2 linked regions of the Homo sapiens genome follow. The protein of the gene in region 2 interacts with the protein of the main gene of each other region in a pairwise test. Each region holds a gene or a part of one and is shown on either strand. Other genes may lie near its edges.

What was found. The genes of interacting proteins can lie anywhere in the genome.
Region 1: the proteins of CRADD (region 2) and APPL2 interact in binary tests that used the Homo sapiens proteins (3 or more experiments, as listed by UniProt).

Annotation. Positions count from the first base shown.
Region 1 is NC_000012.12:105,226,175-105,233,242, forward strand, and holds part of APPL2 (DCC-interacting protein 13-beta), read right to left. Parts: exon of another isoform or gene 3,469-7,068; coding exon of another isoform or gene 3,454-3,468; intron 3,050-3,453; coding exon 2,951-3,049; intron 1-2,950. UniProt on the Homo sapiens protein: Multifunctional adapter protein that binds to various membrane receptors, nuclear factors and signaling proteins to regulate many processes, such as cell proliferation, immune response, endosomal trafficking and cell metabolism.
Region 2 is NC_000012.12:93,672,770-93,680,883, forward strand, and holds the start of CRADD (death domain-containing protein CRADD), read left to right. Parts: upstream 1-4,605; 5' UTR 4,606-4,703; intron 4,704-4,801; exon of another isoform or gene 4,802-5,259; intron 5,260-5,999; 5' UTR 6,000-6,005; coding exon 6,006-6,303; intron 6,304-8,114. UniProt on the Homo sapiens protein: Adapter protein that associates with PIDD1 and the caspase CASP2 to form the PIDDosome, a complex that activates CASP2 and triggers apoptosis.

The sequences.
Region 1 (7,068 bases), about 12 Mb from region 2:
ACAGATCAAAACAGGAATCAGAAAAGATTTCTTTCTTCAATTAAAAACAAAACGAAACACCTAAGCTTTCAAAGAAACCTGAAAAACCAAGTGTCCTTGGCCCAGCCAATCTGAACACAGCTGATCACTGCTTGACTCTGTCTTTGAATCTGGCAGCACTAACCAGACATTCTCACCAGCCTGTGCTGCAGGAAACGCTGAGGCAGGAGGAAGGGTTTCTGGCCAGCAGGAGAACCCACGTGATGATCATATGCTGCGCATTAAAAGCTGGGTTACAGCCTCTAGGAAGGAAAGACCCACTTAATTTTGGCAAAATGTCGTTTTCTGCCTCAACAGAAAAAAATGCATGAGACAGCGTTTGGATAACCCCAAGTAGATGATTCTGACAGACACCGAAAGGCAGAACAGAGACTCCTCAGAGTGACAGAGACACAGTCTCTCACGTCTTGGGTTTTTAAGCCTTAAATAAGAGACAAATCACTTAGTGACGAAATACAAATTGCTGAATAGCAAGCAATTTCAGGTATAAGCCCAGTAAGAACATTCCTGTTTTCTTAAATCTAGAATATTTAGGGAAAAATACAAAAACAAAAATTGACGAAGTTCTCATTTCTCTAAATTCTGAATGTCTTAACAAAACACATAAAATCACAGGTGAACACATAATTCTTTTGGTCATTAAAACTAGTTCTAGCTACTCAGAAGGCTAAGACAGATCACTTGAGGCCAGGAGTTTCAGACCAGCCTGGGCAACATAGTAGGACCTTATCTCTACCAAAAATCAAAAAGAAAAAAAATTAGCTGGGTGTGGTGGTGTGCACCTGTAGTCCTAGCTACTTAGGAGGCTGAGGCAGGAGGATTACTTGAGCCGTGGAGTTAGAGGCTACAGTGAGGTATAATCATGCCACTGTACTCCATCCTGGGTGACAGAGTAAGACCCTGTCTCTGAAAATTAAAAATAAAAAAAAAAGACTCTAGTCCTTTTTTTAATATTTACAAAAATTTTGTGTAGATACAGGTCCTCACTATATTGACTAGGCTGGTCTCAAACTCCTGGCCTCAAGCAATCCTCCCGTCTTGGTCTCCCAAGTGCTGGGATTACAGGCCAGCCCAAAGCTAGTTCTAATTAATAAGTTACACTTATACCTTACTGCATAGTTTGCCTATCTATATCTCCAGCCCTGTACTCTGGATCTGAACTTTCAACAAGATCTCTTTATCCACTTTGATGTCCCATGAACTCCTCAAAATCAGTGTTTCCAGAGAGAATTACAGTTGGGCATCCCCATGACAGATATGCACTCACAGGCACGCACACACACTCATACGCACCCTGCGCCTCTTCCTGTGTTCTCCCATGTATCCACCCTGCCGTTCCAGATGAATACCTGAACATCATTCTTGATTCATCCTTTACCACCTGACCCCTTCATACCCAATCAATCACCAATCCACCTCCTAAATACCTCTCAAGTACAGCTGCTTCTTTCCACTTCTACTGCCACCTCCCCTATGCTTAGGAGTGAAGAGTCTCAGCTTGGCTCCAGCTGATTTGCTCTGCCATGAATTAAATGGGTGCACCTGGACAAGTTTCTCACCATCAGAATCCTTAAGTCTCCCAACCAATACCATAGGCATAATAACAATAACAATACCCACCTCAGAGTTGTTAGGGGAATTTAAATAAAATAATCAACATAAAAGCCCCTGGAAGTTCCTGGATGCTATTAAGTATTCAATAAATCTCAACTCTTACAATCACCCTCCTTTTGCGTGCCCAGCACAACCCCACTAGGTTAGGTGGCTCTCCTCTCCTGGCCCCTCTAAGGCTCTCTGGTGATTGCTTTGTCTGCCTCCCAACCCAACTGTCAGCTCCCCAACGGCAAGGACTGAGTCTTATTCCCATATGATGGGAAATGACTAATAAAACAATGAGCAGTAATAGAGTGGTGAACCTATGTAATAAGAAATGACTATATATATTAGTAAGAGCTATATACTACTGAATGTGGTATAGGTTAAGTACCCTGCATCTGAAATGCTTGGGACCAGAAGGATTTAGGATTTTTTCAGATTTTGAAGTATTTGCTGTATCAGTCGAGCTTCCCAAATCCAAAACTCCAAAATGCTCCAATGAGCATTTCGTTTATGTGTCGTGTCAGCACTCAAAAAGTTACAGATTTTGGAGCATTTCGGATTTTGGATTTTCAAATTTGGGATGCCCAATCTATATTCCTTAAGAGATTATTAATGAGAAAAATATCAACACATAAGATTTAAGTCAGCAAGGAATCAACAATGAAAATGATCAGTTACCATAATATTGTGATGTGTTCAATGCTTTGTAACATAAAGCATTTTATTTTTAAGTAACTCATAAATCTTCTCTTAGAAAGCAACATACATGGGCACTTCTTGACATTAAAAAGATTCACTTTTGCTACTCAGCAATTTCTTTTGCATGCTTTTGCAAGCCAGAGATATTTGTTCCACAAACAAAGAAGCCACCCGATAGTTTCAGAACTGTGACTCAAGTCTTTTCAGAGGAAGCAGTTGAAAAAACATCTCTGCCCTCCCACACTGACATCTAAGACTCTGCCCATTTATGAAAAAGACAAAGAGTATGTGTCAAAATACTGGACCCACTTATTCACAAGTAGGAAGAGGAGACTCAAATGTTTCCCACTGGGTTGAATTTAAAAAAAAAAATTAGGAGCAGTTATGTGGCCCATCTCTAATGGTTCTAATTAAAGACAAATCACTCTTAAGCAATGAGAACAGACTGTCCTTAGGTTTTTGAGGTGAAAAGTAGTGAGAAAACAGTTCTGATTTTGTTTCAAAATCTTAAATGATGTTTTTCGGATTCCAATTTCTCAACCTCTGAGGGAAGTTCAGGATGAGGGGAGAGAATGCCCACTCTGCGGTATCCAGGTGAGGGGTGGCAGCATACCTGGGCTCCATAGACGCGCTGCATTGCCTGGAGCAGCTGGTTGGTATAGTCTGTGAGGGTGCCAGCATCTTCTTCAAACACGCTCAGTAAAGAGCGAGTCTGGAAGAAAAGAAGAAAAAAGGTCAATTTCATTTCTAAGTGGAAAAGTTACAGAGGAGGAGGAAGATCCACACACCCGCACATGCAGAAACCAGAATGCGAGGAAAGAAAGGTACCTGTTGGTTCCCTGGCTTCTTTTATTGATAGTACCAGTACCATTTGATTCCTGGAGCTCTGGTTTAGAGCTCGCTTTCTAATCCTTTAGACTACAGTGTCAGGGCAATTTCAGAATTGGAGCCAGAAAAGCCAGTTTTTAAAAGATTATGACTGAAGGGCTATTATCTGTTCTGACTTTAGCCCCTACCTAAGCACCAGTAAAGTCTATCCAATAAAAAAAGTGTTTAAAAGGGCAGCCTCTCCTCTCAAGTCCATAAGATAAACACAGGTCAGGCCTATCTGTGTACCTGGGGTGTGGTCATCTAGCACAGCTGTAGTGTGATCATCCCAGCAGGAACCAGCAGTCTGGTTTTTTGTAATCTTGGATGTCTTGCAGGAGTGTAGGAGTGTGTCATTCTTTCCTCTTATGGTACTACGATTTCCTTGTTTCTTTTTCTTTCTTTCTTTCTTTTTTTGAGATGGAGTTTCGCTCTTGTTGCCCAGGCTGGAGTGCAATGGTGCGATCTCGGCTCACTGCAACCTCTGCTTCCCGGGCTCAAGGGATTCTCTTGCCTCAGCCTCCTGAGTAGCTGGGATTACAGGCACCCACCACCACACCTGGCTAATTTTTTGTATTTTTAGTAGAGACAGGGTTTCACCATGTTGGCTAGGCTGGTCTCAAACTCTTGACCTCAGGTGATCCACCCACCATGGCCTCCCAAAATGCTAGGATTACAGGTGTGAGCCACCGCACCTGGCCTGCTTGTTTTTAATTATATTTTATTCAACCATTTTCAAACTCACGGCCAAGAAATTTCACAACCCCTGGGCCCACCAGCAGCAGCTCTGGACATAAAACTCAAATAGCAACTTAATAAGAATGCTAGTTTACCGTTTTTAGGAAGACAAACTCCTCAGTGCTCAGAGAGCAGCTGAGCAAAGTCATAAGCTGAAAGGCATTTCCTATCATTTTCATCCACGGTGCTCAGAACACAAAAAGCACTAGAGAAATATTTACATACTGGATGGTGTACGAACAAGAATTAAGGTGCACAGAGGCAGATCTACTCAAGGGATTTTCGTTAATGTGCCCAGCACAGTGGGAATTTAAAGTACTATGTTAGCAATAATTGGATCACAACTTCAAAATATAACCCATTAGGCATAGAATGAAGAATAATTTCAGGAATGCCTTTGAGGTGATATCAAAGCACTTTACCAAATACAACTCACTAAGGCTCATTATTTCCCTGCAAATAAATTGCAATTCCTCCTTTTCTTTTTCTAACTTATTTCAGGTAAAGGAACAGTAACTGACCCCAAAGCACCCTCAAAAAACTAGAATAAGAACCTATGCATTGGGATCATTACCTCCCACCACACATGCTCTACCCAGACTCTGCTCCAAAACTCTGATGCGCTTCACAGCAATGCATGCTTATCCCGCTTTGCCCAGTCTTCCGGGCTAAAAACACCAGGACTAATGTACTGTCTTCAGTACCAATGCTTATCCATAGAAGAGCCACTGTGCAATAATGAATAAGGAAATTGTAACATCATGTTTAAAAAAGCTCTCAGTGAAAGAAAAACAACACAGAATTTGTACAGTGTATAATTTGTGTTAGAAGAGCTCTCTGAACTTTCAAAAATTCATAATCACAGTATGAAATACATCAGGACCTGAACAAAGGTTTTCCCAAACAATATTTATCGATAATATGCATACACATTGTGGCTTTTTCCTATTTTAGTCTATTCCATTTATAAACAAAAATTGTGGTTGTGACCCACTGGATTTCATAATCTACTAATGGATGTCAACCAGTAGGTTAAACACACTGATTCAGGAGAATGAGAAGTGATATAACTGGATTGTGGCTAGTTTTTTCAAAAATACTACTATGTCCATTTAGCCAAATCCTGTTTATTGCATTTAATACTCTAAGGGATAAAAACAGACTGGAAGAAAAGAGGTAAAAAGGGAAAGAGAGGGTTTGCATGAATGTCCTCCACAAAGAGGGTAGAAAGAAAACTAAAATTACCACTTACTCTGTACCACCTATGTGCTGGACGCTGTGCTGGGCACTAAACATATGTGACTTCATTTAATTCTTCTAGCAACTCTCCAAGGTAGATTCCATGGTTCCATTAACTTCATTTTACTGATGATGAAACTGAGGCTCATCAAGGTTAAGAAATGTGTTCAACCTCCCACTGTAGGAATGTGGCAGGGCTGGGATGTAAATGGGTCGGCAGCACTGAGGTCACCAGCAGGGTGGCTCTCATCAGCGAGCATGATCTTTGGTCCACAGCGTACAGCCCTGACTGGAGGCAGGACAGGGGCAGACTGGAGCTGGATGCTACTACCATGTTCCCGCCCACAATACCTGCCAGAGAACTACATCACAAGTGTCCTTTTTCCTTATATCGTGGAAATGCAACTGTGATGCCCATTAGAACTGACAGGGAAACTCTGGTCTTCCCTTTTTAATTTAACTTGGCAGTGATCACCTCTGGAAAAAATATAACCAGCTACCTTGGACACTGGCTATCCTCATTTACTATACTGTGTCTGCTCAAACTTTGGTTTGGAACAACAGAGATATTCTGAGACATAAAGAAGGAATGAGACCAAGAATAAAGCAAAGGCACACCAGTAGCTCAAAATCCCACGGTCAGAAAGACACGGTCAGAAAGACACTGGTATATCTCACTTACAAAGATAACAACAGCAATCATTTATGGGGTTACTATGGCATGCCAGCATGGAGACACTTTACATATGTTACTTGTTCTTCCTAACAACTCAACTAAATAGCTATTTTTATTTTTATTTTACATACCTCCAAACACAACCTCAGAGAGATTGAGTAACTTGCCAAAAGTAACAGTAGCAGATTCAGGAGTGGAATTCCATCCATTTTCTACTGCCCGACACTTTTAAGGGTATGCTCGGCCAGAGAAACAAATCCAAGCACCCTATGCACACAGCCTCAGCTCCCTATCACTCCTTTACCTTAAAGAAACTGGGTATTACCTAATAAAACACTCCTAGACATTCTCAAGAATAGTGTGTGTAATTGTGTAGTGGCCCAATGTTAACACCACTGACTACTGAGAAAATTTTAAGGTTATAAACAAAGTTCTTATCTCCATAATTTGGTGGAGGAAGAGAATGTCCTAGTGAAAAGAACCAAGACTTTGGGAGGCCAAGACAGGAAGATTGGTTGAGCCCAGGAGTTCAAGACCACCCTGGGCAACACAGCAAGACTCTGTCTCTACAAAAATTAAAAAATTAGCCATGCGTGGTGATGCATGCCTGTAGTCCTAGCTACTCAGAAGGCTGAGGTGGGAGGATCGCTTGAGCCCAGGAGGCTGAGGCTGCAGTGAGCCGTGTTCATGCCACTGCACCCCAGTCTGGGCAACAAAGCGAGACCCTGTCTCAAAAAAAAAAAAAAAAAAAAAAAGAACCAAGTCTATTGAAAGGAAAAATAGGTTATAAACAAAAAGAGGAACAGCACAAAACATCTCCACAGTGAAGACATATAAAACCACCAGGTTATGTTTTGAGATTATCTTGTTTGAGGAAAGAAAGGCCTGATTTGGTTGGAGAGGGCTGCTCCCAGCCGGGCCACTCAACTGCATAACCTCAGAACTACATCTTTTATTTCTTTGTTCCGTTATGCCAATCGCAAAAGAAACAAACAAAACACAAACCGAGCAAGCAACAGTGCTGTTGTCTTCACCTTACCTCAAAAGTGTACTACTTACAGGACAAGAGAATAAGCCCCTGAAGAAGTACAAGCTGCAGGAGCTCAAAGCTGCATTTGTGTTCCTATCGCAGCAGGATTCACACTGTACTGGAACTGTTGCCTCATTATCTGTCTCTGGAACAAACTGTGAACCAGTCAAGGGTAGTCACT
Region 2 (8,114 bases):
AGCAAAGAATTGAATGAATCATTGGAATTCATAACTTAGTAAAATAATAATTTATTAGTGCAGATGATATTATCTACAGCATATCTTAATCAAAAGTTATACAGAAAGAGGCAACACTTGCATATTTCAAGTGAGTTTTTTTTTTTTTTAAGGATTTACAGTTACAGGGATAGATGTCTGTATTTCTTTTGACAAATTCTTATTTCATCTCTTTTTGGGGAGCGTTGGTCCAGGAAATAGAGACCATATGAAATTCTATGCTGCATGTCAAGAAAATAGCTAAGATAAAATGGGGACTAGGAATTTGGTCCCAGAAGTTTTCATTTCTCCCTGACTATGAGCAAGTCCTTTATGGAGTTCCTTTTCTCCTTCTTTCTCTTCTGATCCTCCCTCTCTTGCTCCTTCCCTGCCTCAAGTTGTCACACCTCCTTGTCTTCTTCAATCTGTAACAATTTCTCAGTCTTTCATGACCTTGACACTTTTGAAAGTACTTGTCAGATATTTTGTAGTGGCAAAAACCACAATTAGTTTTGCAACAACCTAACAGAATATCTCTCAGTTTGAGTTTGTCTGATGTTTTCTTACAAAAACACTGAGGTTCTGAATTTTAAAGGAGAATATTGCAAAGGAGATATGCCTTTCTTGTCACATCGTATTGGAGCACATGATATCTCCATGACTAATTACTGGGGAGGTTTAACCTTGATCACTTGGTTAAGGCGATGTTTGCCAGGTTTCTCTACTATCACGTTTTTCTTTTTCTTTCTTTCTTTCTATGTTTTATTAGTTATACAGGTGTGACTTTTTTTTAAACCCAAGGGTTTAAGAATTGTTTTATTTAGTTTCCAAATTTATGGGATTTATGGAAGCTATCCTTTTGTCAAAATATCTAATTTTATTGTATAATTATAGAGTACATAGTTTGTATGCTAGTGATTTTCAGGAATTTATTAATGCTTCTTTGTGACCTGATTTATGATCTATTTTAATAAATGTTTCAAGTATGCTTGAAAAGACTCTGGTTTTCCCCATGACTTAATTTCTACATCAATGAAACAGGAAGAACCAAAACATCCAATTCCTTTTATTTATTTTTTGAAGGCTGCAAAACCAAAGACCAAACCGAAAGAGAAAAATACTGCATTTGTTCTTTTTGACTCTTTATTTTGCAAACTCACAATAGGGATATCTTGACACAAGTAAACATACTAGGGGAGAGAGAAAAATGAAAATATCTGTCCTTCCTGTGGATTCGTTACCACTGGGTAACAGGTGCTTAATCCTCCGTGGGGGCACAATTTCAGATTACAGAGGGTCTGGCCAGAGCGGAGGAGTAACCACCTGTGATAATGATTCTGATCTGTGTTCCATTCCTTAGAAGCCCTCTGGCCTTAGCTAATCTGTCTAAGTAAAGTTGGGTCTTTGGTGTACTGCCATGAAGTATCGCTGTATGCTGAGGTGGGGTGGCTGATGGCAGTGGGCTAGTCGTTCAGCCTAGTTGCTTAAGAGACAGCATGGATCCTCATCTGTATTTGCCATGGGAAGAGGCATTCGATGATTAAAGACTTCACGCTGCAGATTTAAGTCAGATCTTTAATGGCCACCCTTTCAGGTTGTTTACCATAGGACGCCATGCCCCTCGGCTGCTGCCCTGACACTCTCCTGCTGTCTCTGGCTGCTTCTCTTCTGTGAACCCTCACGGATCCTATTGTTGGTTCCCCACCTCCTCCTGGGCATCATCATCAAGGCTCACCTTCTAGCTTCTAGGAGATCTCAAGCCTTTCCAAATATGATGAGTCATCAAGAAATATGAAACTTTATATGGGCGTTTATTGCGCTATTTGTTTCAACTTTCCTATATGTTTGAAATTTATCGAAGTTCACAGTTAGAAAAAAATCCACTTGCTTTTCCTCTCTAAAAAAGTTAGTATAGGTTGATGATCCCTTACCCAACATGCTTGGGACCAGAAGTGTTTTGGATTTTGGATTTTTTGGGATTTTGGAATATTTGCATATACATAATGAGGTAACTTGGGGATGGGACCCAAGTTTAAGCACAAAACTTATGTTTCATATATACTTTTTATACACATAGCCTGAAAGTAACTTTATACAATATTTTAAATAATTTTGCACATGAAACAAAGGTTTGTGTTTTGACTGAGACCCATCACATAAGGTCAGGTGTGGAATTTTCCACTTGTGGCGTCATGTTGACACCCAAAAAGCTTCAGGTTTTGGAGCATTTCTTTTTCTTTCTTTTTTTTTTTTTTTCTGAGACAGGGTCTCTCTCTGTCGCCCAGGCCGGAGTGCAGTGGCATGATCTTGTTTCACTGCAAACTCCACCTCCCGGGTTCAATTGATTCTCCACCTCAGCCTCCTGAGAAGCTGGGACTACAGGCGTACACAAGCATGGCTGGCTAATTTTTTGTATTTTTTGTAGAGATGGGATTTCCCTATGTTGCCCAGGCTGGCCCTGAACTCCTGGGCTCAAACGATCTGCCTGCCTTGGCTTCCCAAAATGCTGAGATTACAGGTGTCAGCCACCACTCTCAGGCAGGTTTTGGAGGATTCTGGATTTCAAATTTTTGTATTAGGGATGTTTAACCTGTAAACTTCAACGCTTGGCAGTGTTGCAAGTGGTCTGCACTTTATCTGGATGAAGACAAAGAATGGTGCTAACATTTGTCTATGAACAGATGGGAAATCTTGCTGAGGAAAGGACAATGATTCTCAAGCAAAAGGGGAAAAGGGAGAGAGAAAAGAGAGCACCTGGAACTCAAGAGTATCAAGAATGGGAGGTGGCAACAGGATGATTTGCAAATAATATTTGGCTATCATTAGAACAATAAACTCTTCACTATACAAGGTTGTATGGTGTATTGGAAAGAGCATGAAATCAGAGAAACTTCATTAGACTTCAAGTTTTGCTCTATATTAGCTGTGAGATTTTGCCTAAGACAATTGACCATTCTGATTCCACAGTCTTTATACATGCAAATGCTAAAACAGTTGTAACAGTGGAGATACATTGTGAAAAATGTGTCATTGTGCAAACAAAATAGGATGTACTTATGCAAACCTAGATGGTATAGCCTACTACATACTTAGGCCATATAGCATAGCCTATTGCTCTGACCACCATCATATATGCAGTCTGTCATTGACCCAAATATTGTTATGCAATGCATGACTGTAATAATAATAATACTTGCCACATAGGTAAAAATACTGTCATTAACGGTGTAGTAAAATGGTAACTGGCATAGTAATGCTGTAAATTGAATACAATTTTTAGAAGGTTTTGAGGAGGGAGGTTCAGAACTGTTCTCCATTGATTTGCTTAACAAAGATATTTTCATTTTCCACCAAAGGGTTTGGCTGTGAAAACCTTTGCAGAAATAATATTTTAGGAGTTTTTTCCCCCTGTACTGTCAACTGATTTTTAGTAAGCATATGACTTTCTGTATGTATCATCCAATTGATTTAAAAATGAATCAATGAATGTATTTATTGATCGCCTGCCTCGCTTCACAAAGGAATGTGAGGAAGGACACCCAATTTGGCATTGCTGTGTTTCTCTGTATTTGGGTCATGCATTTTTTCTTGCTTTCCACATTGAAAATGTGGTGGATGCAGTAGATTGGCTTTAAGTGTCAGGCCTTCCCTCATTTACTATACCTTTTTGTGTTTCACAAGCTGGAAAGCTACCAACTACATGCTCTAGACATCCTTGCTGCTAATATTCTGCATGTCAGATTGGTCTCACCAATGGCACGCAGCAAAGCAAGATTTGCAGGTGCTGTTTTCTTGCTGCTGGCAAATGCAGCCGTGGAGACCACCGTTTTTTGCAGCACTGTTCCAGTGTCCTGTTAATTGTTCTGTCGGTGTTGAGAGGAGGTTGGGGACCAGGCATGGCAACTTCCTGACGCCATCTTCCTGATTGTGGGCAGCAGCCACAATCAGCAATCTTATCTAGGTAGTCATCCATGGATGTTCAGCTCAGCCCTTCTCCAGCCTTTCCAATGATTTCGAATGTCCCCAATTCCCCCTAACGAATCCCTTTCTGACTAGGAGTAACTAGCTGAGTGCTGCAATGAAATCCTGACTGACAGATTTGTAAACTCTTTGCGGGCAGGAACCCTTGATATAAATAAATGACCTTGCATTTTAATGGAGGGAAGCAGAAGGATAAACAAATGAATAAGTGAAAAGTTTTAATAAGATGGTGATGCGTAAAAAATAAAGCTGGTTAATGGGGAGTGCAGGAAATGAGCGCAGCTGTCTTGCCGTTTTAATCAGATAGGTCAGAGAAGGCTTCTCTACTAGGGTGGCTTTTGACCTGCCTCTCTGTTAGGTCAATTGTGTGCGAGGCCCTGATGGAGTTACTGTGTTAAAATGCAATGATTCAATTACTCCATTACTTAGATACCCTTTAAGTGACACTACGGTTGTCCATCTCCCCGCTATTGAATTGTTTACCCACAGTAAGCATGGCGGGAAGAGCTTCGATCCGACCCTTGAACGCTCAATAAAAATGGCGACAGCACTTCCTGTACTTGCCCTCAACAAAGATGGTGTCAACACTTCCTGTTTAGGGTTTTCGCCATTAACAAAGATGGTGCTTATGGGGCAGGTTCCCTAACAGTCAGGATTCCGGTTGCAGTTTTTCTCCCCCGCCCCAAAGATACGTGGTTGCAGACGTAAGTAACAGGAATCCATCTTTCTTTGAAAGTCCTGCATTGTAGCGTCTGCGACCTGGGCCCTGCGGGGGCTTCCCCGCCCCGCTAACTTGCTCCGCATTTCCGATCCGGGCCAAGGCTGGGTGGCTGCGGCAGTGCCGGAGGCCCGCTCTCCCCTTGGTCCGCTCTTTAGTTCATTCCCAGCACTCCCTCTTTAGCGGGTCAAGTTGCCGCAGAAACCGCCCGTAGTCTTCCTGTTTGATACAAGGGTTTCAGCGGCCGAAGCAGAGCCTTTTTAAATAGTTCCCAATGGGCGCTCACGGCCAAACGTGAACACCTCCCCTCCTCACCTGTCACCTCCTGAACTTTACAGGGTTGCGAGGGGGAGTGTGGGATCGGGTGTCGCCTAGCCGTGGTCGTACTGCCCGGGTGTGTCTGAAGCCCCATCTGTCATCCCTGCCTGCCTTCCCGGTCACTTAACCTTCACTGCCTTACACACAACCAAGCCACAGCACACTGGTGCAGGGGTGGTGGAACTGCACCTTCAAATCGTGCCTGGCTACTGACCAGTGCTGGGGTGTGTGCTTTTTTTGAAAGAAAAAAATCCCATAAAATGTCCCATGCATGTGCGGCCACGACAGTGTTGTGCTGGAGATTCGGAATTCTTAGTGGGAAGGAATGGAGTCTGTGACTGTATATTGTGTAAAGTTTATTGTAGACTGGGCACAAACAACAATTTTCTTAAAGGTGATCGTGTAGAGGACTTTTAGCGAAAAGAGCCTTAAATTCTGAACCTGCTGATTTCTGTCCTGCACTCCTATTACTGATCAGGTTTTGCAAATACTTGTGATCAAAAAAAGGGGACCTGCGTCCACCTTGGCAGTTTCTGCCTTGGTGGTGGTGGTGCAGGTCTGATGAGGGCAATGTGAAAATAAAACCACCATTTCTTCTCCAGCGTGTTAAAATTAGTGCTGCTCTGTAATCTTCAGATAAAAATTGCTTGTTCAGAAGGGTCTCTGACCCACTTTTTTTTTTTCTTTTTCCAAATTTCTTTATTGAACGAGGAATTGAGCTGGGACCCCATTGTGTGAAAAGCAGAAACAGAAAAGATGATTCATCTTCATTGTTGTTCATTATGTTAGGAAACATTCAAAATTAACCTGGCTTGGCTTAATCAGTGAATTAAATACCATGACCTGGCAGTCTGCTATGGTTTAAAGATGTGCTTGACCTGAAGGAACTTACATTGCAGTGACACTGTCTTTAGGGCCACATCAACATGTCTGTAATTTGAGCTGTGATTTTGGCTCTTTCCAGGGAGAAATGGAGGCCAGAGACAAACAAGTACTCCGCTCACTTCGCCTGGAGCTGGGTGCAGAGGTATTGGTGGAGGGACTGGTTCTTCAGTACCTCTACCAGGAAGGAATCTTGACGGAAAACCATATTCAAGAAATCAATGCTCAAACCACAGGCCTCCGGAAAACAATGCTCCTGCTGGATATCCTACCTTCCAGGGGCCCTAAAGCATTTGATACATTCCTAGATTCCCTACAGGAGTTTCCCTGGGTCAGGGAGAAGCTGAAGAAGGCAAGGGAAGAGGCCATGACCGACCTGCCTGCAGGTAGGCCTCAGAAAGATCACTTTGAACCAGCTCCAAAATGTTGTAACTATGCTCTTTGCTTTTTTGTTTATTTGTTTGTTTGTTTTTGAGACAGAGTCTTGCTCTGTTGCCCAGGCTGGAGTGCAATGGTGTGATCTCGGCTCACTGCAACCTCTGCTTCCTGGGTTCAAGCAATTCACTTGCTTCAGCCTCCCGAGTTGCTGGGAATACAGGCATTTGCCACCATGCCCTGCTAAGTTTTGTATTTTTAGTAGAGATGGGGTTTCATCATGTTGGCCAGGCTGGTCTCGAACTCCGTACCTCAGGTGATCCACCCACCTCCGCCTCCCAAAGTGCTGGGATTACAGACGTGAGCCACCACACCTAGCCAGAACTATGCCCTTTGGATTTGAAGTTGGGATGTAAGGCAGGACAAGGGTCAATGGTTGATGAAAGTGGGTAAGGATTTGGGACTGAAGGGACATGACGTTGGAGGAATAGGATCAGGAGGTGGCATTAGGAAGTGCAGGGAAGGAAGAATGAACCGTGACTGGGAGGTGAGGGAGGGAGCTCAGAGAATGCATTTAGAAATGCTTCCAGGAAACCTGGCATGTCACTTGGGAAGCATGTTCTCATCAGAGAGCCAGGTCATATCTCAGCCGTTGGCATCAGGAGCCATTTGGAAAGTGCAGATGGGAAAGCAGGCATTCGGCCTACTGACAACTGATTTGTGAGGTGCCAGAGCTACCAGCTGGAAAAGGTCAGATTCATGGAGGAGGAGACAGCCTCTAGGAAGGCATGCCCTGCACCTGTCCCCTGGGCTGTCCTGTGTGGCCAAAGGGGATTATTTTGAAGGCTGACTTAGTTTGTTTTTAAAGGTTATTCGTTTAAAGTGTCCTTTTTAGTTTAGCTTTGTTCAGACACTGGAGTATTTAATTTTGCAAAGAGCAATAGTTTGGGGAGGGTCTCAGTTTAATTTGAAGGAGAATTGGAAGCTGGAGAAGAGAGAAACAGTTCTGGTTCTGTTAGCCTGGCTTGTAGCAGGAAGAAGATGTGATATGGAAACACTTGCTTTTTCTTAACCTCCCTTGACTCTGTTTCACAAAGATAGAGGGGCAGAGAACTGAACTGGCAAAAATTAAAAATTGAAAAAAAAAAGTAATTGAAAGTTGGCTTGCAAATTTTTAACAAAGTTAGAGAATCAAGGTTCTCTGGGGTTTCTGATAAGAGTGATAGAACTATTCCGGTTCAGTGGGCCCCAGACTTCGTGGTTGCTATTTTTTAAATACTGGTTAAAAAAAATGAATACTGATAATAAGACCACTTTTACTATTTTTGCTCCATGGACCTCATATTTTGACATATGTCTGAATACCTGATCAGCATGACATAGCCAGCTAACTTTAGGAAGACCTGGTAAGATCCCAGTGGAAAAAGCAAAAGTATTTTCATTCCTAGTCTGGGCTCGTTACAGTTAAATGTATCTTTAGGCTTTTTGAAATATTAGACATAGCTGGCTTTTGAGGACCACTGGAATTCACTGCTTGGATTGTCCTTACAAAATTAAATACTCCACATGTCTGAACAAAATGTATCTAGATGTTTTTATGACTTTATTGAAAGCAGAATAGATAACATAGAGTTGGAGAAATGTTAAAAAATTATTGGTGTTTTCCTGATATTTGACTTAGAGGTTTCTGCTGGCATCATATAGTTGGAAACAACAAAACAGGTGAACTGAAAGCCTTTCACTATCAAAATACTGAATTTAATTTTATGGTCATTTTGGGTGATACAGATCATGCTGTTGTATGTCATTCGTAGAGGTATAA